4 separate regions of the Homo sapiens genome follow, and regions 2, 3 and 4 are each linked to region 1. Evidence: fine-mapped expression QTL. A gene starts in region 1. Each other region holds a variant in brackets. All regions are shown on one strand. Distances are from middle to middle.

Region 1 (5,146 bases):
ACCAAGCAGTGGCATTAGATTCTCACAGGAGCTTGAAATCTGCTGTGAACTGTGCATGCGGGGGATCTAGGTTGCATGCTCCTTATAAGAATCTAACGCCTGATGATCTAAGGTGGAACAGTTTCATCCTCCATTTTTTTTTCTTTTTTGAGATAGAGTCTTTCTCTGTTGCCCAGGCTGGCATGCAGTAGCACAGTCTCAGCTCACTGCAACCTCTGCCTCCCGGGTTTAAGTGATTCTCCTATTTCAGCCTCCTGAGTAGCTGGGATTACAGGCACGTGCCACCACACCTGGCTAATTTTTGTATTTTTAGTAGAGACGGGGTTTCACCATGTTGGCCAGGCTGGTCTCAAACTCTTGAGCTCAAGTGATCTGCCCACTTCGACCTCCCAAAGTGCTGGGATTACAGGCCTGAGCCACCACACCTGGCCAAAAATATCTGATTTTACTAGACAATCCTATTGTTATTTATTTTTTATTTTTTGAGACAGAGTCTTGCTCTGTCACCCAGGCTGGAGTGCAGTGGTGTGATCTCAGCTCACTGCAGCCTCTGCCTCCCGGGTTCAAGCGATTCTTGTGCCTCAGCCTCCTGAGTAGCTGGGATTACAGGCGAGCACCACCATCCCTGGCTAATTTTTGTATTTTTAGTAGAGATGGAGTTTCACCAAGTTGGCCAGACTGGTCTTGAACTCGTGGCCTCAAGTGATCTGCCCACCTCGGCGTCCCAAAGTGCTGGGATTACAGGTGTGAGCCACCACGCCAGGCCTTCATCATAGAATTATTGCCCACCCCCACCACCCTGTCCGTGACAAAATCGTCTTCCATGAAACTGGTCTCTGGTGCCAAAAAGCCTGGGAACTGGTGATCTTAAGGATGTGACGTTGAATTATTAGAAACTGTGTTGCTGTCTGTTCAGTCTTTATAGGCCAAGACTGAAGCCTAGTTGAGAAGAGGGCTCATAGGAGCCTGGCTAAGTTCCATCAAGAAGAGAATCACTATCAGCTTCTATACCTTAGCCCCTGCCCGCACCCCCCCACCCCCAAAAAGCATCAATATTGTGACTATATACCAGGTGTTTCACAAAGTTATGAAGTAGTTATAATTAATATCCTCATTAAAAGGTTAAGAAAACTGAGGCTCAGAAAGGTTAAGTTGTCTGCCCAAGGTTCCACAGCCAGAAGTAGCAGTGCTGGGATTTGAACCTAGGTCTAAGTCTCACTGGTTCCAGAATTCACTGTCGTCCAAAGTGCATAGCTCCATTCTATGTTTCTAGGCTCTGTCTTTAAGCCATCCCTCTCCTGCACATGCCCATTTTACGAATGCCTATGGTCCCGAGTACTAAATCTGGACAAGTATGTGACCCTGGGCAGTGGATCTCGGCTCTGGCTGTACCACCTGGGGAGCTTGAAAAACACTGATGCCTGGGCCTCACCCCTAGAAGCTCTAAGGTAACAGGTGTGGAGTGCAACCCAGAGGGATTTTTAGAAGATTCCAGGTGATCTCTGTCAGGAGCCAGGTTTGAGACCCACTGCGCTAGGAGTCTTCACAGTTATCATCCCATTTGATGCTTATAAGAGCCCTGTGAGAAAGGCAGGCAAGTGGCAATCCCCATGTCCTGCTGACGAAGAAAAGTGTTGAGATGCTAAGGCTCAGACAGTAAGATCTGGATAGAAAACAAAGTTTCTGACCTCTAGCTCTGAGTTCTCTGCCTAAAGGTTCTGCTCTACAAGGCATAATTTAAAAAAAAAAAAAGCAACATCTCCAAGAAGAGCAGCTTAATTTCTCTTGTACAGTACAAGTCACTTCTCACCCCCATGGAACACATGGAGGAGAGGTAGTACCTGCTTCAGCCACAGTACCCAAAACAAGGCCAGGGCATCCCAGGGAGGTGAGCAGTGACCCCCCTTTCTGACAAACTGTTCCCCTGGCAGAAGCCAAGGGAGGGCTAGGGGACAGGGGCCTGCAATTCTGTGATAGCGTTGGGGCCTGCTTTCCACGCCCACTTTTCTGCAACGGTTTGTGATCTGGACTCCCTGAGCACCCGTTGGGAGCTGGGGGCAGCCTAGGGAAGTCGGGACCTACTCCTGTACCCTTCCAAGGCAAGCATCCTGGGCCACCTAGCCGTTTCAGGGTCCAGGCCATGGGACCCCCTGTGCATAACACTGGGCCCAACAGCCTGGTCGGGCCCTGATGTTTGCTCACTGATGATGTGCAGAGGAGAGGGGGCAGTTTCCCACTTCTGGGAGAAGAGAGGGCACTGTCGGCCCTTGGCAGACTTGGGGGGCGTCACTGCCCATATGTGGGGGACGTCACTGCTCACCTTGAGGGACTTAAGGGTTCCCAGTGGTGGGCATTCGAGAGGATACTGTCCACATCTGGGGCCAGCAAAGGACCCCTGTACCTCAACTGGAAGGCCAGAGGTTCACCTCAGCCTTGCAGTCATGAGGCAGCAGAGGGCCCCTACCCACTCCAACCCCCTAAAAAATGCAACAATCCCAGGCACACCTTAGGCCGCAGCCTGGCTGTGACCGAACAGACGGCGGCCACACCCCCGGGGAGAGGCCGGGTGGGGACCGCAGGGCGCAGCTCTCCCAGTCCCACCCTTCGGCGCAGGGCTCCGGCCAACACAGCCCTCCAGGCCGCCTACTCTCCAGCCAGCCGGCTCCACGGACCCACGGAAGGGCAAGGGGGCGGCCTCGGGGCGGCGGGACAGTTGTCGGAGGGCGCCCTCCAGGCCCAAGCCGCCTTCTCCGGCCCCCGCCATGGCCCGGGGCGGCAGTCAGAGCTGGAGCTCCGGGGAATCAGACGGGCAGCCAAAGGAGCAGACGCCCGAGAAGCCCAGGTGAGCGGCTGGGCCGCGCCGGACGGGCGTCGGGGGTCTGGGCCGCGAACCCGCCGCGGGGCCGCCGGAACCTCCGCGAAGGTTCTAGGCCTTTGTGGCGTCACCGTCTCCTTGCGGAAGCTTCCGCCGGCGCCGAATAAAACCCGCCGCGGAGGAGCCGGTGGCTCTAGTGCGGTGGAGCCAGGCGTGGAAGTCGGTCCGGCGCGGGGCGGGGGGCGGGCGGGAGCTACAAGCGGCGGCGGCGGCGGCGACCGTGACCGTGACGCGCGAGCGGGCGGCGGGGGCGCGGGCCAGGGGCGCGGGCCAGGGTGCCGGCAGGGGCGTCCGGGGCGCTCTGACCGGCCTCGCCCGCCCCCCCCGCAGACACAAGATGGTGAAGGAGACCCAGTACTATGACATCCTGGGCGTGAAGCCCAGCGCGTCCCCGGAGGAGATCAAGAAGGCCTATCGGAAGCTGGCGCTCAAGTACCACCCGGACAAGAACCCGGATGAGGGCGAGAAGGTGCGGGGCGGCGCGGGGCACGGGCCGGGCTCCCGAGGGGCCAAGGGTTATTAAGCCAGGAGCATTGAAGGCGACGGGAAACCTGAGCCGCGTTTGTTGGGGAGGCTGTCGCCAGGCGCCTCGGGGCCAGGCCGGGCAGAGGTGGCGGGAGACCCTGGGCGCCGTGCGGCGCGGTCGGTGGAGGGCGCTTCGCCCGCGGAGGAGGCATGTGGTGCGGCACTTGGGTCCCTCGCGAGTCCCTGCCGAGCCCATTCATTCCTCCATTCGCTCCACAAGTGTTTGGGTAGCCCCTGCCGTGCGCGCCGGACTAGTTCTCATAGGGTGTGTTGGTTCCCTGTGGGAGAGGCGGCCTGGGAATCGGGAAACTGAGGCACACACAAACAGTTGTTTACTTGCTGGGAACGACTGGCTCATATTCTCTGTTGATGCATAAACCCTAGGGATGAGTGTCTTTAATCTGAGCTGGTACCTTGGACAAACGCCGTGCCTCTCTTGAGAATGACTAGCTGGATTTGTTCTGTGCACCTACTGCCTACCTGATAAAAGCGTCAGATAGTGAATAATCCCATTTTCTTTATTAAACAGGGACACGGACATCTGCAACCTGACATCAGCTTGTACTCATATTCTGGGTTTTCGGTGACAAGTGACACACAGTTGATCATAAGTACCAATCATAGACTGAAAATGCTCTGCATTTTAGAGACAGAAGTTAAAAGCTTTTCCATCCTGTTTACAGAAAGTTTGCTTTTTATCTCTAAAGAGGCTCATGACCCACCTGAATAGGTGAATTGAAGGATGAGGCATTGCAAGGAAAGGCTGCTAACCCTCCCGTTCCTCCTTTCACTTCTTGCCATTTTCTTACAAAACTTTGGTTGTTCCGCATGGGTCTTGAGAGGTGGGGCCGTTATAGTAGCTGATAGCAGTGTCACTTGGGCCACGTTTGAAACCACACCAATCACCCATGTAGCATTTAAGACCTGTGGAAACGACGCTGGAATCAAAATACCTGTCTGTGTTAGTTGTTCCAAGCTGGAGAAAGCTACTTCAGGACGGTTGGCTGAATGGCAACAGTGATGGAATATTTATATTTAGCCACATGTGCTGAATGTGGCTGTCACAAGTTTAAAATGCTTTCCTGTAAGACCATTTGTCTGTTACTCACTTGCGTTCTTTCTCATCTATATTTAGATGGCTTACTGTAGCTTTTAAAGGCACTGGCGTTTTACATGGTGCTGGTGATTCATCCACCTGCTCCCTACATTCATTGTGGTCCGCTTCTGACAGTCTCCTTTAAGGAGAGCTTGTAGGCTTCTAATTTCACATTTCAGCAAGCTGGCTAAAGACATGTGGGAAAGCCTGACCCTGGATTCAGGTCAAATCTCAGCACTCACAAGAGTAAGTTCATGCCTCTGTGTATACAGTTAGAGCTGAATATGCTTTTGTTCTGAAGCTTTTATTTTTAAAAAATTAGACTTGACCTGTACTACATATGTGTAGGTTTCACCCTGTCTATACCTGTCTGGGCAGGTTGTTTGGTTTGTTTTAAACTAATATTTATTCATAGCCAGGCACTGAGTTAGTGTCACATAAATGAGGCCCTTGGCAGTGAGGTCTGGCAGGCCCATCAGCTTGGAGGGAAGGGTTCTGTGATGTGCCCATTGCCAGGAATACTTTCCTTCCTCTACCTTCATGGAAGGGGATAAAACTCTTTAGTTCTCAGCTAAAACATCTTCCAGGAGGCTGCCTCTGCCTCATAGACTGAACCACAGGCCCAACGTGCATCCTACTTTAATGGTGAT
Region 2 (5,146 bases), 290 kb before region 1:
TGTGCATTTGTCCCCTCACCTTTCATCCCAATTTTGTGTTAACATATTTGGATTAAGTCCACATTCCACGTTTTCATTATTATGGCTGTAAATCTTGATGGCTGAACTAAGTGTTGTAATAAGATGGCATTTCTGTTTTTTGTTTGTTTTTTGAGAGTCTCATTCTGTTGCCCCAGCTGGAGTACAGTGGTGCAGTCTCAGCTCACTGCAGCCTCCGCCTCCTGGGTTCAAGTGATTCTCATGCCTCAGCCTCCCAAGTAGCTGGGATTACAGGCACCTGCCGCCCCCACTCAGCTAATTTTGTATTTTTAGTAGAGACGGGGTTTCCATGTTGGCCAGGCTGGTCTCGAACTCCTGACCTCGAGTGATTTGCCACCTTGGCCTCCAAAAGTGCTGGGATTATAGGCATGAGCTACCGTGCCCCATCTAGATGGCATTTCTTTTTAAGAACAGTTTTTTTTGTGCTTTGTTTTCCTTGCTTCTCCAGGCCTTCCAGATCCTTTAATAGTTTTATAAGATGTCTCTTAATCCAGTTTTCCCAAAGGTAATCCCTACCAGATAATCCAGCAGTTCCCTTCTTTCCTGGACCCTCCTCCCAACTTCCCTCGGTCCTCTAGTTTAGACTAGATGCTTTCTAGGCCTGCCCCAAAATATTTATGGAGGGTCTTCCTGTTTCTTGGATCCCATGCTACTTTTTTTATGGGGAGGTACCTTTTTTTTTTTTTAATTTGTTTTGGTGGAGCACATCCTCAAGTAGCTTTCTGAGAAAGAGTGCATGGAGGTAAATGGTTTGCCCATCTCAAAGTGTCTTTATTCTTTGCTCACATCTGATTGATATTTTGATTTGATATCAACCTCTGAGTTGAAAGTGACTCTTCTTCAGAATGTTGAAGGCATTTTTCTGTTGTCTTCTAGCTTCCAACATTGCTCTGAAGAGGTCCCATACCATTCTGATTTGAATGTGACCTTTTACAAAATCTGGAAGCTTTTAGGACTCTCTCTCTTTCTCTCTTTTTGGTGATTTTAAATTTTACAATATATGCCTTGGCCTATTTTAATTTGAGGGAGCACTCATTGGACTGTTTTAATCTAGAAACTTGTGCCCTTCGGTTCTTGAACTGTTGTTGTATTATTTATTTGATAACTTTCTTACATTTTCTCTTTTTGGAACCCTTAATATTCACCTATTTTCTCACTTTCTTATTTTTAAATGTTTTATATTTTTCATCTTTGTTTTCCTTTCTCCTTCCTTCCTTCCTTCTTTCTTCTTTCTTTCCTTTCCTTTCCTTTCCTTTTCTTTTCTTTGTTTCCTTTCTTTCTTTCTTTTGAGACAGGGTCTTGCTTTGTTGCCCAGGCTGGAGTGCAGTGCCACAATCATGGCTCACTGCAGCTCGAGCTGCCAGGCACAAGAGATCCTCCTGCCTCAGCATCCCAAGTAGCTGGGGCTACAGGTGTGTGCCACCACACCCAGCTAATTTTTTCAATTTTTTGTAGAGATGGGGTTTTGCCATGTTGCTCAGGCTGGGCTTGAACTCCTGGACTCCTCCCTCATCCTCCCAAAGTTCTGGGATTACGGGCGTGAGCCAGCATGCCCAGCCATCTCTTTCTGTCTTCTAGGAGGTATCTGATTCATCTTTACTTTACAATCCTATTAAATTTTTGAATTTTTTCATCGTACTTTTAATTTCTTAAACTTTCTCATTCACTAAATACACATTGAGTTCACATCTGAAATACTTGGGACCAGAAGTGTTTTAGATTTTGGATTTTTTTTTTTATTTTGGAGTATTTGCATTATACTTAGCAGTTCAGAATCCCCAGTCTGAAAGTCCAAAATCTGAAGTGCTCCAAAGAGCATTTCCTCTGAGCATCATGTTAGTGCTCAAAAGTTTTGGATTTTGGAGCATTTGGATTTTGGGATTGGAGATGCTCAATCTGTGCACCTTTTGATCCTATTCTTGTTTCATGGGTACAGTATGTTCTCTTATCTCTGTGAGGTTATTACTTACATGGATTTGACTTTTTTCTTCTGTTCCCTGAAATGTTTTTCTTTCCTTTGGGTTATTTTAAAAATACATATTTGTTTCATGTTAACAGTTTTCTTGTCCAGGTGCAGTGGCTCATGCCTGTAATCCCAGCACTTAGGGAGGCCGAGGCAGGCTAGCCCGGCCAACATGGTGAAACCCTATCTCTACTAAACAAAAATACAAAAAAAATTAGCCAAGCACGGTTGCTGGTGCCTGTAATCGCAGCTACTCAGGAGGCTGAGGCAGGAGAATCGCTTGAACCCGGGAGGCAGAGGCTGCAGTGAACCGAGATTGCGCCACTGTACTCCAGCCTGGGCAAAAGAGAGAAACTGTCTCAAAAAAAAGTTTTCTTAAAATGCATTGGCTGTATTTCATATATAGCAAGGAGATGCAGAGACACTAATTGGGCAGTTTGTGGACTTGGGCAGGACTTTTCCAAGTCTCTGCTGAAAGACTGGTTCAGATGGGGCTATTTTGGGAAGATCCTCTAATGTCAGTCACTGAGGTCATTTTTCTGAGTGAACCAGTTTCCCCAGAGAACAATCCTCTCGACTTTTCCTGGGAGAGTGTATGTCTGGCTGCAGCATCCAAGTGGGGAAGGGGCTTGGCATGTTTCTTACCCTTCAATGTATAGACTTTTGCTTGTCCCCTTTTCTCTGTAGGTCCTTCTGCCTTGGGCCTTCATGTATGTCTACCATTCCTGGGCCAGAGCCTCCTGGTTCACCCTCCCCAGGGAGTGATCCCCGGCCCTCTGCTGGGTGGCAGGTGGCCATCACTTGGCTACTCAGGGTTGGGGAGGGGATCTAGGGTCTGATCGGTTCTTACAGACTTTCAGCCCTACTGTCTTCAGCCCTCCTGGCACTAAGGCCCTGAGGGGTCCCTGGAAACTCCATTCCTGAGCCTTTCCGGGCTTCTCCTTCTGGGTGGTTCCTCCCTGCAGGCAATTGGCTCTCAGCTTTTATCACTCTACCAAGTCAGCTACT[A/G]CCTGGCCATCTGCTTCCCAGCTTCCAGAATCTTGTTGACATCCTTCATTACCCATCATCACCCCTTATGGATTTATGCCTTGTTTATTTCCTCCACTGTCATCATAGTGGAGTTTTGGAAGGGAGCAGCAATAAATCTGTCTGCTCAACGTGCCATGTTTTTCTAGAAGTCCACTCACTATGGGGCTTAAGCAGGGATGTGACTAGGTCCATTAGCGATGTAAGAGCAAGGATGCTGGCCTCCAGTGGAAGAGGGAGTACTGGGGTGGGGGGATTGGAAGCAGAGAAGAGTTTTGTTTGGTGGTTAGACTGGCCATGCATGGTGGCTCATGCCTGTAATCCCAGCACCTTGGGAGACTGAGGCAGGCGGATCCCTTGAGGTCAGGAGTTCGAGACCAGCCTGGCCAACATGGTGAAACCCCGTCTCTACTAAAAATACAAAAATCACCTGGGTGTGGTGGTGCATGCCTATAATCCCAGCTACTCGGGAGGCTGAGGCAGGAGAATTGCTTGAACCTGGGAGGCAGAGGTTGCAGTGAGCCAAGATCATGCCACTGCAGTTCAGCTTGGACGACAGAGCAAGACTGTCTTGGGGAAAAAAAAGAACCTAGACTGTGGCCCAGGCTTCTACCTGTGTTGGCAGACAAGTTATATTAGCTCTTAAGCCTCAAAAAATGGACATGATGATGGGCCTGCCTTGTGCATGTGATATGAGGAATAAGTGAGAAAACGCATGCAGTGCTTAGCACAGTGCCTGCCACACAGTAAGCATTTCACGCACACTCATTACTATTCCTTCCACTGTTACCAAGTGATAGATAGGATGGACTTGAACCAGGGAAGTGGCCTGAAGGTGGGGAGGAGGGTGTGTCTCCTTCCCCAGAGAGAGGCAGAGAATGAGAGAATGGCTTCAGAAAATCAGAATAGTAGCTGCCCCCACAGCACCCCCAGGGCTTGTTCCCAGCTGCCCCGACCCAGGGTGCCGCCCAACAGCCTGGTTCTAGGACAGACAGACAGACAAGTCTGTCCTCATTCAGCTGCTGGAATGCTTGAGGGACTTGGCTCGGGGCCTGGGGTGAGGGTGAGAGGACAGGGTGAGAGTCAGAGCCAGCCGGGGCCTCCCAGAGCCTTGGCACCAGGGAGAGCCAGACAGAAGCAGAGCAATACGTGCCTCCCCAGGGGAGCGGGCCCCTCCCCAATGGAGGGGCGTTTGGGAGGAAGAATAACCCCTTCTTCCCAAGGTCCTTTTGCACTTTCACCTTTGCATCCTGGGAGTCAGGTAGCAGGGCCCTCCCAAGGCCCAGGAGGTGGAAGGAAGAGGGTGTGCGGAGGTGGGGAGGGTGGCAGCAGCCTGTCTTCCAGCCTGCAGCCTTTGGTCTCCTTGATGGGGGTGGGACAGGAGAGACAGGATGGGCCCCACCCAAGCAGGTTGGGGGACAGAATGAGTGAGATTCACCGAAAGTGCCAAACAGTCAGGCAGTGTTTCTAGGACTTGGGGGCGTCGCAGAGGCACTCACAGACCACCCTCTCATCCTAGCTGGTCCTGAAGCCCTTTGGCTTCCTGCATATAGATGCTTATCCAGCCAGGTAGACCCACAGGGCTGAATCCAAACTCGTTCTTGCTGTGTCCACAGACTCCATGTCCATCAGGCCCTGTGTGTGGGGACCGTGGTAAAGGAGACAGACCTCCAGGTGCCTGTCCTCCAGGCCCTCACACCATGGGGAGATGGACAGATGACAGTTGGGGATGATTGGCACTGAGGCATGCAGTCCTCGTGGGTCTGTAGGAATGGGGAGAGGGGCACCAAGCCCTCCTGGGTTCAGGAACAGTGACTCGGAGAAGGAGCCTGCCTTCTAAAGGCCAGCTTCCACGCCGAGGAAGAAGGGTGCTGCTGTAAGTGGAGGGCAGGCTGGGCAGAGGCCAGGGCCATGCGAGTATAGGGTGGGGCAGAAGAACCCTCAGGAGGTGGTGGGGGGGCACTGGAGGGTAGCTTCTGGAGCTTGTCCAAGAGGGTTGACCTGAAGAACTCTAAGAACCTTTCCGGACTGACAGGTGCTTTAAGGGACCCTGGGGAGAGGTCACAGCATTTCACCAGTGTCAACTTGGACCTGGGTGGGGAGGAGGGGAGGCCCTGG
Region 3 (5,146 bases), 23 kb before region 1:
ACCTCAGCCTCCTGAGTGGCTGGGGCTACAGGCATGTATCACCATGCCTGGCTAATTTTTAAATTTTTTTTGGAGAGACAAGGTCTTGCTATGTTTCCCAGGCTAGTCTTGAACTCCTAGCCTCAAAGGATCCTCCTGTCTCAGCCTCCCAAGGTACTGGGATTATAGGTGTGAGCCACCATGCCCAGCCATGAATCCTACACTTTAAAATGGTGAATTTAATGTTATGTGAATTTCACCTCAATACAATGTTTTAAAAAGTACAAAGGGCTTCATAGTAAAAATTAAATTTTCCTCCCACTTTTCTGTCCCTCTCCCCACCATCCTTCACTCATTTCTTTTCTCCAGAGCCACCACTGTTAAAAATTTCTTTTTTGCATCATTCTAGAAATATCTTGGATATATACAAATGCTAACATATGGCATACACAGTTTCGTGTCTTCTTATACTTGACAACATTTGCTGGAGAACTTTTCATATTTTTGCCTGGAGAACTTCCTGGTTCTCTTTTTGTGGGGTAGGTACAGCATTCCATGGAAGGGCTGGCCCGAGATGCATTTCAACAGCTCTGTAGGATGAACATTTAGGTTGTTTTCAGTCTTTTGCTGTTACAGATGAAGCTGTGATGAATAATCTTATCCTTGCGTGGTTCGTACTTGAGCTAGTCTATCTCTAGGATAAATTCCTAGAAATGGGACGCTAGGACTTGACTAAGTTTAAACTTGAAAATGACCGAGTTTTTGCGAAACTCTTATTGGGTCGGGGGGTCCTTGCTCCCAGAGCTCCCAAGATGGTGGCGGGCCGCTTCCAAGATGGTGGCAAGCCTTGTGTTCTCTGACCTGGGGTTCTTGGCCTCATGGATTCCAAGGAATGGAATCTTGGGCCATGTGGTGAGTGTTATCGCTCTATTAGAAGCCGTGGATCACGGAAGAGAACCGTGGAACCCAGTGACTAGCGTTCAGCTGGATTAGGACAAACCTGGGCACCTAGCTGTGCAGGAACAATGGCAAGCCTTTAGCCGGATCGGGAGCGGCAATGGGTGCCTCATTGGATCAGGAGCACAGTGGACACCCTGCCGGATCCAGACGGATGGCAGTCAGCAGCGGGTCTGCGACAGCGGCAAACAGCAGTGGTGGACGGCGAGCAAAAGCTCAGCTCGAGCGGTAACAAACATGGACCAGAAGAGAATTGCAAGATTTTTTTTTTTTTTTTTTGAGATGGAGTCTTGCTCTGTCGCCCAGGCTGGAGTGCAGTGGTGTGACCTAGGCTCACTGCAAGCTCCACCTCCTCAGGTTCACACCATTCTCCAACTCAGCCTCCCGAGTAGCTGGGACTACAGGAGCCCGCCACCATGCCCAGCTAATTTTTTTGTATTTTTATTAGTGACTGGGTTTCACCATGTCAGCCAGGATGGTCTCGATCTCCTGACCTCGTGATCTGCCCGCCTCAGGCTCCCAAAGTGCTGGGATTACAGGCGTAAGCCACCGTGCCCCACCAGTTGCAAGATTTAGTAGAGTGAAAACAGAGCTCCCATACAAAGGGAGGAGACCCAAAGTGGGTAGCCAGTTGCCAGCTGGAATGCCTGGGTTTATATCCCGATTGTCGTTCCTCCTGCTGTGCTCTCAGGCAATAGATGATTGGCTATTTCTTTACCTCCTGTTTTTGCCTAATTAGCATTTTAATGAGCTCTCTTTATTACCTGATTGGTCAGGTATGAGCTAAGTTGCAAGCCCCGTGTTTAAAGGTGGATGTGGCCATCTTCCCAGCTAGGCTTAGGGATTCTCAGTCGGCCTAGGAAATCCAGCTGGTCCTGTCTCTCAAAACCAACAGATTAAATGTCCTGCCATTAGGAGGAAGGGTGGAGAGCTGTAAAAAAAATTTTTTTTCCATTGAGTTACAGAAAATAAAACTGCAGTTTTGCCCACCTGAGTTTGTCGATTGAGGAAGTTTGTGCCTGCTATGCGTGTAAGGCCAAATGCCTCTGCACCAGCCTCTACTGTCATCGAAGTGATTGCTGCCCTCACTGGTTTTCAACTTCAAGAATTGGCTGGGTGTGGTGGCTCATGCCTAGCACTTTGGGAAGCTGAGGCAGGTTGACTGCCTGAGCTCAGGAGTTCGAGACCAGCCTGGGCAACACAGTGAAACCCCATCTCTACTAAAATACAAAAAATTAGCTGGCGTGGTGCTGTGCACCTGTAATCCCAGCTACTCAGGAGGCTGAGGCAGGAGAATTGCTAGAAGCCGGGAGGCGGAAGTTGCAGTGAGCCAAGATCACGCCACTGCACTCCAGCCTGGGCAACAGAGTGAGACTCCATCTCTTAAAAAAAAAAAAAAAAAAAATCAAGACCACTATTTTCCAATCAATTTCTTTACCACCTTCATTAGTTTTGCCATATTTGGTTTCCCCAGGGGTATAGTACATTATTTACTATTTTTCAACTCCATTTTATAATTTAAAAATGAAATAGCTTTATTCTAAGCAATTGAAGAACTTGTTATATAAATATATACAGATATTTCCCAATGCATGTTGAAATTAACATGAAACTACCTTTTCTTCTTTCTTTTTGAGAGATTG[AG/A]GGGGGGGTCTCATCATGTTGCTCGGGCTGGTCTTGAACTCCTGGGGTCAAGCAATCAGCCTGCCTCCCACAACAAAGAGATATTAAGTGTTTTGTTTTTGTTTTTAAAAGCCTTTAAAAAGGCTTGGGTGGGAGGGTCATTGCTGTATGTTTTCAGCATTAGCTTTTCTGGGCCACTTTTTTGTTATCATGCGTATGTATTACCAGGAGACGATTTTTTTTTTCTTTTTAAATTTCAAAATACTGCACCTGGGGCTCTGGATTGAGGCCTCGCAGTCGTCTCTGGGTGCAGGACGAGCAGGAGAACAATGGGCCTCTGCTGACCCCTGCTGGCCAGAGCGCCTCCCACCCACCCAGGTCTCCACAGGACTGGGATCTTGCGCCACTGCCTCCATCCCCAGAAACAGCCGTCCTTCCTCCCCTGCCCCCAGAAGGCCTCCGGCAGCCACCACAGTGTGCTCTGGACATCGAGTCTGGGGCCCGGCTGGGAGACCCTTGTGCTCCAGAGGGCGCTGAGGCTCTGGGCTGCATTTGTGTCCCCTCTGGCCCTGTCTACATCGAGTGGGTGGGGTGTGAGTCCTGGGATCAGAGTATCCTCCAGCTCTAGATAAAACCCGACTTTGGAAGGCCAAGGTGGGTGGATGACCTGAGGTCAGGAGTTCGAGACCGGTCTGACCAACATGGTAAAGCCCTGTCTCTACTAAAAATACAAAAATAAGCCAGGCGTGGTGGTGGGTGCCTGTAGTCCAAGCTACTCGGGAGGCTGAGGCAGGAGAATTGCTTGAACCCAGGCGGTGGAGGTTGCAGTGAGCCAAGGTTGCACCACTGCACTCCAGCCTGGGTGACAGAGACTCTGTCTCAAAAATAAATAAAATAAAATAGATAAAACCCAGAGATTTTTGGAGATTCAAACTCCTCTCCCAGGGACTCACATTCTCTGAGCTATGGGTCACCAGGGCAGAGCTTTCCTGAGAGGAGGGGCAGAAGAACGTAGCACATAGAGGATTCTAACCTGCCAGGACTGAGCTGGGAGTGGGCAATGGAGACCACGGAGGATGGAGGCCTTTGGAGGATTAGGGAAGGAGGAGGAAGGGAGGGAACCCAGATGTCTGGGCAACCTCTGCAGAGGAGGCACCTTCTTTTCTCACCTGGAAAGACCTGGATCAAGGGCCACGTGACCCGTATTCTCCAGATCTGCACCATATAGGGCAGGGGTGGAACACACTGGTTTTTGGATTTGCACCATGACCCAAGCCAAGTCACCTCTCTGAGTCTCAGTTTCCTCCTCTGTAAAATGGAGAGTCCTGATTACCAGGGGCAGAACCCCTAACTGAAACCAGCAGAGACAAAAAGGACCACGAGATGATGGGTGCAATGCAGGACAGGGTGAATAACTAAACACAAAGGGGCGAGGGGTGCTCTGCCACTGGGAAGGATCCCCCTTCTCCACCTCCCTTATGAGGGAGTGAATCTCATGGCTCACTCTGCACTGGCTCCCTCCTGTGGAGAGACCGGGGATAGGAAGACAGCCGTAAGTTCCCCGGCTTTCTCCCCTCAACAGAATGGTCCAAAGTGCAGCACACACAACCTGTCTGGGTCACCTACATGACATAGCAAAGAGCTATGTTTCCTTGTGCAATGAAGAACAGCTCAGAAATGCAACTACCTTCTATTTATTTGCTTTCCTTCCTTTTCTGCCTCATGTCTTTTTTTTTTCCCTGATTCTTGTGCCCTAGAATTCCACTTCCAATAAAGCCTTAGGACATAAACTTTGCCTTGGGCTCTGTTTTCTAGAGCATCTGGGATGAGATAGATGCTTATAAGCTGTTTGACCTTGGATACATGACTTAACCTCTCTGTGCTTCAGTTTTCTTATTTGTAAAATGGAGTCATGATTCCTAGTTCATGAGGTTGCAGTGAGTTAAGTCTACTGAAGGCACTTAGAGTGGTATGTAAACATCCAGTTAGAATTCATTGCCAGGTGCAGGGGCCTACACTTGTAATCCTGGCACTTTGAGAGGCTGAGGGGGGATTGCTTGAGTCCAGGAGCTTGAGACCAGCCTAGAGACCTTGTCTCTACAAAAAAAAAAAAAAAAAAATTAGTTGGGCATGGTGGCACATGCCAATAATCCCAGCTACTCAGGAGGCTGAAGCGGGGAGGACTGCTTGAGCCTGGGAGTTTTAGGCTGCAGTGGGCCAAGATTGTGGCACTGCACTCAGCCTGAATGACAGAGCAAGACCCCGTCTCAAAAAAAAAAAAAAAAGAAAACAGAAAAAAAAAGTTTTCGCTGTTTTTAGTATCCTCGGGCCTGAGAATGCTCTGGACATTGGGACAGAGGCAGCTCATTGGCAAAAAAAATGGAGATTTGAATGACTCTCCAGGGATCTCATCACGACAGAGCCACGCAGCTGAGGATGTCTGTTGCTACCCAGGCTGCACCTTCCACGCTGGCTGCCCCTGACCTTAGGCAGTGGCCTGAGGCTGGGGAAGGAACACTGGATTGAGAGTCAACAGGACTTGGTTCCAGCTTGCATGACCCTGGGGGAAGCCTCCACATCGCAGAAG
Region 4 (5,146 bases), 38 kb after region 1:
CAACTGCAGGTTTAGAGGTTTGTGTTGCAATTTCATTTTGTACTTTTGAGATTGGACTAAAGCTAATAACTTCTGTTGCTGAAATAAATTCAGTGAAATCGAGCTTTGTCTTTCAAACTGCTAGTCATGACCCATTAACGTGACAGATATCAGTTTAATAGGTTGTCAACTGACTTTTTTTTTTTTTTTTTTTGAGGGCCAGGCAGAGTAGCTCACGTCTGTAATCCCAGGACTTTGGGAGCCGAGGTGAGAGGCTTGCTTGAGCTCTGGGTTTCCAGACCAGCCTGGGCAACATAGCGAGAGACCTCGTGTCTACTAAAAATAAAAACAATTAGCACATGCCTGTAGTTCCAGTTACTTGGGAGGCTGAGGCAGGAGGATCGCTTAAGCCCTGGAGGTTGAGGCTACATTGAGCCGTGATGACGCCACTGCACTCCAGCCTGGGGAACAGAACTAGACCCCGTCTCAAAAAAAAAAAAAGAGATGGGGCTGGGTGTGGTGGCTCATGCCTGTAATCCCAGCATTTTGGGAGTCGGAGTGGGTGGATCACTTGAGGTTAGGAGTTTTGAAATCAACCTGGCCAATATGGTGAAACCCCGTCTCAAGTAAAAAAAAAAAAAACAGAAACAAAAACAAAATTAGCCGGGTGTGGTGGCATGTGCCCGTAATCCCAGCTACTTGGGAGGCTGAGGCAGGAGAATCGCTTGAACCCTGGAGGCAGAAGTTGCAGTGAGCACAGATCACACCACTGCACTCCAGCCTGGGCAACAGAGTGAGACTGTCTCGAATAACAACAACAAAAAAAGATGGGAAGAGGCTCATGCCCCATTATGGAGGCCGCCCTGTGGCTCAGATGTGGTGGCTCACTCCTGTAATCCCAGCACTTTGGGAGGCCAAGGGGGGAGGATTGCTTCTGGCCGTGATTTCAAGACCAGTATGGGCAACATGGCGAGACCCAATCTCTACAAAAAATTTTAAAGTTACAGACGCAGTGGTGTGCACGTGTAGACCCAGCTGCTCAGGAGGCAGAAGTGAGGATCACTTGAGCCCAGGAGTTTGAGGCTGCAGTGAGCTATGATTGGGCCACTGCACTGTAGCCTGGGTGACAGAGTGAGACCCTGGCTCTAAAAAATATTTTTCGAAAAAACTAGTTTTGAAGTTCAAATATATATATAGAGAGAGAGACGGAGGACTATTAGACCACTTACAACTAGGTGAAGTTCATCTTTGGGGGCTTTTTTTTCTTTTGAGACTGAGTCTTGCTGTGTCACCCAGGCTGGAGTGCAGTGGCGCAATCTCGGCTCACTACAACTTCTGCCTCCTGGGTTCAAGTGATTCTCCTGCCTCAGCCTCCCCAGTAGCTGGGACTACAGGCACCCACCACCACACCCGGCTAATTTTTTTTTGTATTTTTTTTTTTAGTAGAGACGGGGTTTCACCATGTTGGCCAGGCTGGTCTCAAACTCCTGACCTCAGGTGCTCCACCCACCTCTGCCTCCCAAGTTGCTGGGATTACAGGCATGAGCCACTGCACCTGGCCATCTTTGGGGGCTTTTTGAGGAGGCTATGTGTGGTGAGAAATTGGCAAATACACCCACATCTCCCAGGACCTATTCTCTTGTCCTCAGTAATCTCACATTAACACAAAAGAGAAGACATCCTGCAGCTCTTCTGCTGCACACATGACTTCCCTGCATGCCAGCATCCTTAACCCTCAAGTTCACATGTTTCAGAGTGATATGACTAATTTTTCTCAGTCACATTGACTGGAGAGCTATTTCTCTCCTTCCCAGCTCTGTGACATCTCTGTCCATAGAAATTTCATCCAGCCCCAGTGGACCCTCTGCATGTCACTGGCTTAAAAAGTTTGGGTCAAAGTGAGCAGACTTCAAGACTGAATTGTCAAAATTCTTATGTGGCATCTCTTATAAGTCAAGATATCCTTGTAACCATTCTGGATCTATTGGACCAGGGTCAGGCATGTGCCCCTGAAGCTAAGGAAGAATGTACAAATTATATCATGAAGCCAGTGAGCTGATTTTCAAACTTAGATTGACTTAAGTGCTGACTGGTGTTCGGGCACATTCCACAGAGCTAAATACACAGAAACTGACCCTGCAATGGCTGGGATGTGGGTTCCTGAAGTGTGGAAAGGAATTAACATTAGTACTACAAAGCAATGGCTTTTAGCAGTTAAATGAGTGACCTGCTGCCTTCCTGTATAACCAGTTGCCTTAGTTTTGGCCAATCTGCTG[C/T]TTTGTTTTTGTTGGTGACATTTACGGGTTTTTGTGGGTTTTGGAAATAGATTATTATGTAACCTCTCCCACACCGAGATAATTGGGCCATCTTCACTCTAACTTTTAGCTTTTGAATATGAAGAAGTATTTTTGAAAGACTCCTACTTTAAGAAGGGTGAAATTTTGGCTGTCAAAAGTGCTCACAACTGTATGACTAAGTGAATTTTAATTTGTGTGATCTGGGGTTATGTAAGGTTTTTTTTCTTTTCTACACATTAACTTTAAATACCCCACCTTCAAATTATTCTAAAAGCACACTGATCACATTTATGCCTTTTAACTTAAAATTTAATTAAAATTTAAAATTAAAAAAGCATAAATGTGATCAGTGTGCTTTTAGAATAATTAAGCCAAATACTAAGGCTTTCCATTTCTGTTTACTTGCTCCCAAATCTGCTACTAATAATTTTCAATTGAAGCCAGTTGTTTTGGATAAAAATTCAATTAATCATCTCAAAAAAGAGAAATGGAATACATTAAGAAAGAAGTAGAATAGAAGATATAAGAGTGCATCATACATAGTAAAGTTACATCATGTTTTATAAAAACTGTTTCACCCATGCGGTTACTGGGTCACAAGTGAAAATCCATTTCTTGCTATGAGTCATGGCCAAACACTTTGAAAATCATTGTAATAAAGACTTTCTAAAGACTTTCCAGCTTTATAATTCTATAATTATGACAAGAACTCCAAACCATTCATTCAAAAAGGATGTATTAAGTACCTACTTTCACCACATTCCCCCAGAGGGCCAGACATATGGGATCATTGGCATGACCTTAGCATTGGGACTATAAAGCTAGAATAATTGGCCTTTTTTACACTGTGGACGTCTCAGGCATCTGATGAAACCAATGAATCCTGTCCCAGAACAATGGGGTTTTTTGGAAGAAAAAATTTTAATTGCTGTTGCAAAAAAACATCAGTATGGAGTAGAAATTGGTTTCTATGGCATTATTAGAGAATATGTTCTAGAAAGTGGAGGTAACTGGATGTAAGATTCTGGCAGCAGTTTAATAGATAACAGTCCCAGATGTTTAGGTTGAGGCCAACGCCTAATTAGGGTGAACGGTTTGTGCGTGTGTAATTTTGGACAATATCTGGAGAAAGGTTACACTGTGCACAAACCAAATTTAATTTTTTTCACAAGTGTTGTAAAGTTTCTTATAATAAAAGGTTTTTGCTACATGCACTTCATTTTCACATTAAGAGTGTTTAGAATACCTAGACACAAAAGAGAGCATTCATGCAAGATATGCTACTCCTTGATATAATAATGCATACAGTTCAAAATGTTTACCCTTTTTTTTTTTTTTTTTTTGAGACAGAGTCTCGCTCTGTCGCCCAGGCTGGAGTGCAGTGACGCGATCCCGGCACACTGCAAGCTCCGCCTCCTGGGTTCACGCCATTCTCCTGCCTCAGCCTCCTGAGTAGCTGGGACTGCAGGCCCCCGCGACCACGCCCGGCTAATTTTCTTTTGTGTTTTTTTTAGTAGAGACGGGGTTTCACTGTGTTAGCCAGGATGGTCTCGATCTCCTGACCTCGTGATCCACCTGCCTTGGCCTCCCGAAGTGCTGGGATTACAGGCGTGAGCCACCGCGCCCGGCCACTGTTTACACTATTGTTGCAGTAGCTGCTGCCATCACCGGGCTGCGGCAGGGAGGCACAGCTGGGGCTGCATGCTGGTGGATGCCTCCCCCTTCTGAGTTGGGGAGAGCTCCCCAGGTGCTGCTGCAGCCGCCCAAACAGCAGTTGCAGATCCAGGCCTCCTGCTTTACGGAGCAGGCAGGGTCGCCACCCTCCTGGGCGGGGCTACAACTGCCCAAACAGCGGCTGTGGATCCGAGCCTCCCGGTGCTCTTGGAGGGGGCTGGGAGCAGGCAAGATCTGCCCTCCTAGGTGCAGGACCCAGAGGGTCTCTGCAGCCTGCACCCTCGTGGACCCCAGAAAGGACCCCACCGCACCCCGTCGCTAGGGGGTGTCTGTTCCTGCTGCCTGGCCTCTCTCTGCTGCCGCCCCTGCTCTGATCATGGAGCAGGGCTTGGGGCCAAGCCCCAGGGGCCATGAATGACAGTAGGAGGCAGATCGATTCCTGGGCAGAAGGGGGTAGGTCTCCAGTAAGGCCCCACCTTCAGGTCAGGGAGGGACTGAAGACTGGGGACCAGGCTGCCAGTCCCACAGACCTGAGTGGGAGCTTGTGGTGCCTCCTCCAGGCTCACCCATGGCCGCCCATGGGCCAGTCAGCACACACTTCCTCCCTTCTGAGGTCCATAAAAGCCCTGGGCTCAGCCAAACTGCAGGAGAGGATGGAGAGACAGCGGGAAGAGTAGCTGTAGAAAGGAGCTACCCTCTCTGCCAGAGCTGCAGAGACCTGCAGAGCCTTTCAAAGGACCTGCGGAGAGGAGGCCCCCCTCCTCCTGTAGAGACTTCCAAATGACCTGAGGAGAGGATCCCCCAGAACAGCCTCCTTCTCCAGGAGCACCCCCCGCCAGGATCCCCTAGAGCAGTCCCCCTCTCCAGGGTTGGGTCTTCTCTCTGCTGAGAGCAGCCCCCCTCTACAGGGTGAGGTCTTCTTTTTGCTGAGAGCAGCTCCCCTCTCCAGGGTTGGGTCTTCTTTCTGCTGAGAGCAGCAGGTGGCAGGATAACCAGTGGGCAGAGGGGGAGCTACCCTCTCCAGGCCTCCTGTCTGCTGAGAGCTGAACACTCCATGGGATGACTTGCTCAGAGGAGCTACCCACTGCGGGTCTTCTCTGAGCTGCTTAACACTCAGTAAGTTCTTCGAGTACCTCATTATTCCTGGACACAGGACAAGAACTCAGGCAAAGGCGCTCCCAGGAAGAAAATCAATA

Direction of the effects. Positions count from the first base shown, and alleles are read on the strand shown. Sizes are in standard deviations (SD) of each study's normalised expression. Not every link is listed here.
With allele A in place of G in region 2, the expression in fibroblasts of the gene that starts at base 3,011 in region 1 is higher (small effect, 0.21 SD a copy in GTEx).

Evidence for each region. PIP is the estimated chance that this variant, and not a neighbour inherited with it, causes the effect.
Region 2: its variant is fine-mapped to the expression of DNAJA4 in fibroblasts (GTEx, PIP above 0.99).
Region 3: its variant is fine-mapped to the expression of DNAJA4 in whole blood (TOPMed, PIP 0.98).
Region 4: its variant is fine-mapped to the expression of DNAJA4 in whole blood (INTERVAL, PIP above 0.99).

Annotation. Positions count from the first base shown.
Region 1 is chr15:78,261,552-78,266,697 of GRCh38, forward strand. It overlaps DNAJA4 (DnaJ heat shock protein family (Hsp40) member A4), which reads left to right and starts at 3,011. Exons shown (of 7, transcript NM_001130182.2): 1 at 3,011-3,344. The coding sequence starts at 3,213. It overlaps DNAJA4-DT (DNAJA4 divergent transcript), which reads right to left and starts at 2,593. Exons shown (of 4, transcript XR_001751621.1): 1 at 2,506-2,593; 2 at 2,321-2,406. RefSeq lists silencers at 2,865-2,944, 3,255-3,544.
Region 2 is chr15:77,967,992-77,973,137 of GRCh38, forward strand. No RefSeq gene overlaps it. Among named protein-coding and RNA genes, the nearest start is that of TBC1D2B, 110 kb to the right of the region's middle. The variant A/G (reference allele first, on the strand shown) is at 3,011.
Region 3 is chr15:78,238,211-78,243,356 of GRCh38, forward strand. No RefSeq gene overlaps it. Among named protein-coding and RNA genes, the nearest start is that of ACSBG1, 6.2 kb to the left of the region's middle. The variant AG/A (reference allele first, on the strand shown) is at 2,580.
Region 4 is chr15:78,299,826-78,304,971 of GRCh38, forward strand. No RefSeq gene overlaps it. Among named protein-coding and RNA genes, the nearest start is that of SKIC8, 2.8 kb to the left of the region's middle. RefSeq lists enhancers at 1-916, 92-181. The variant C/T (reference allele first, on the strand shown) is at 2,256.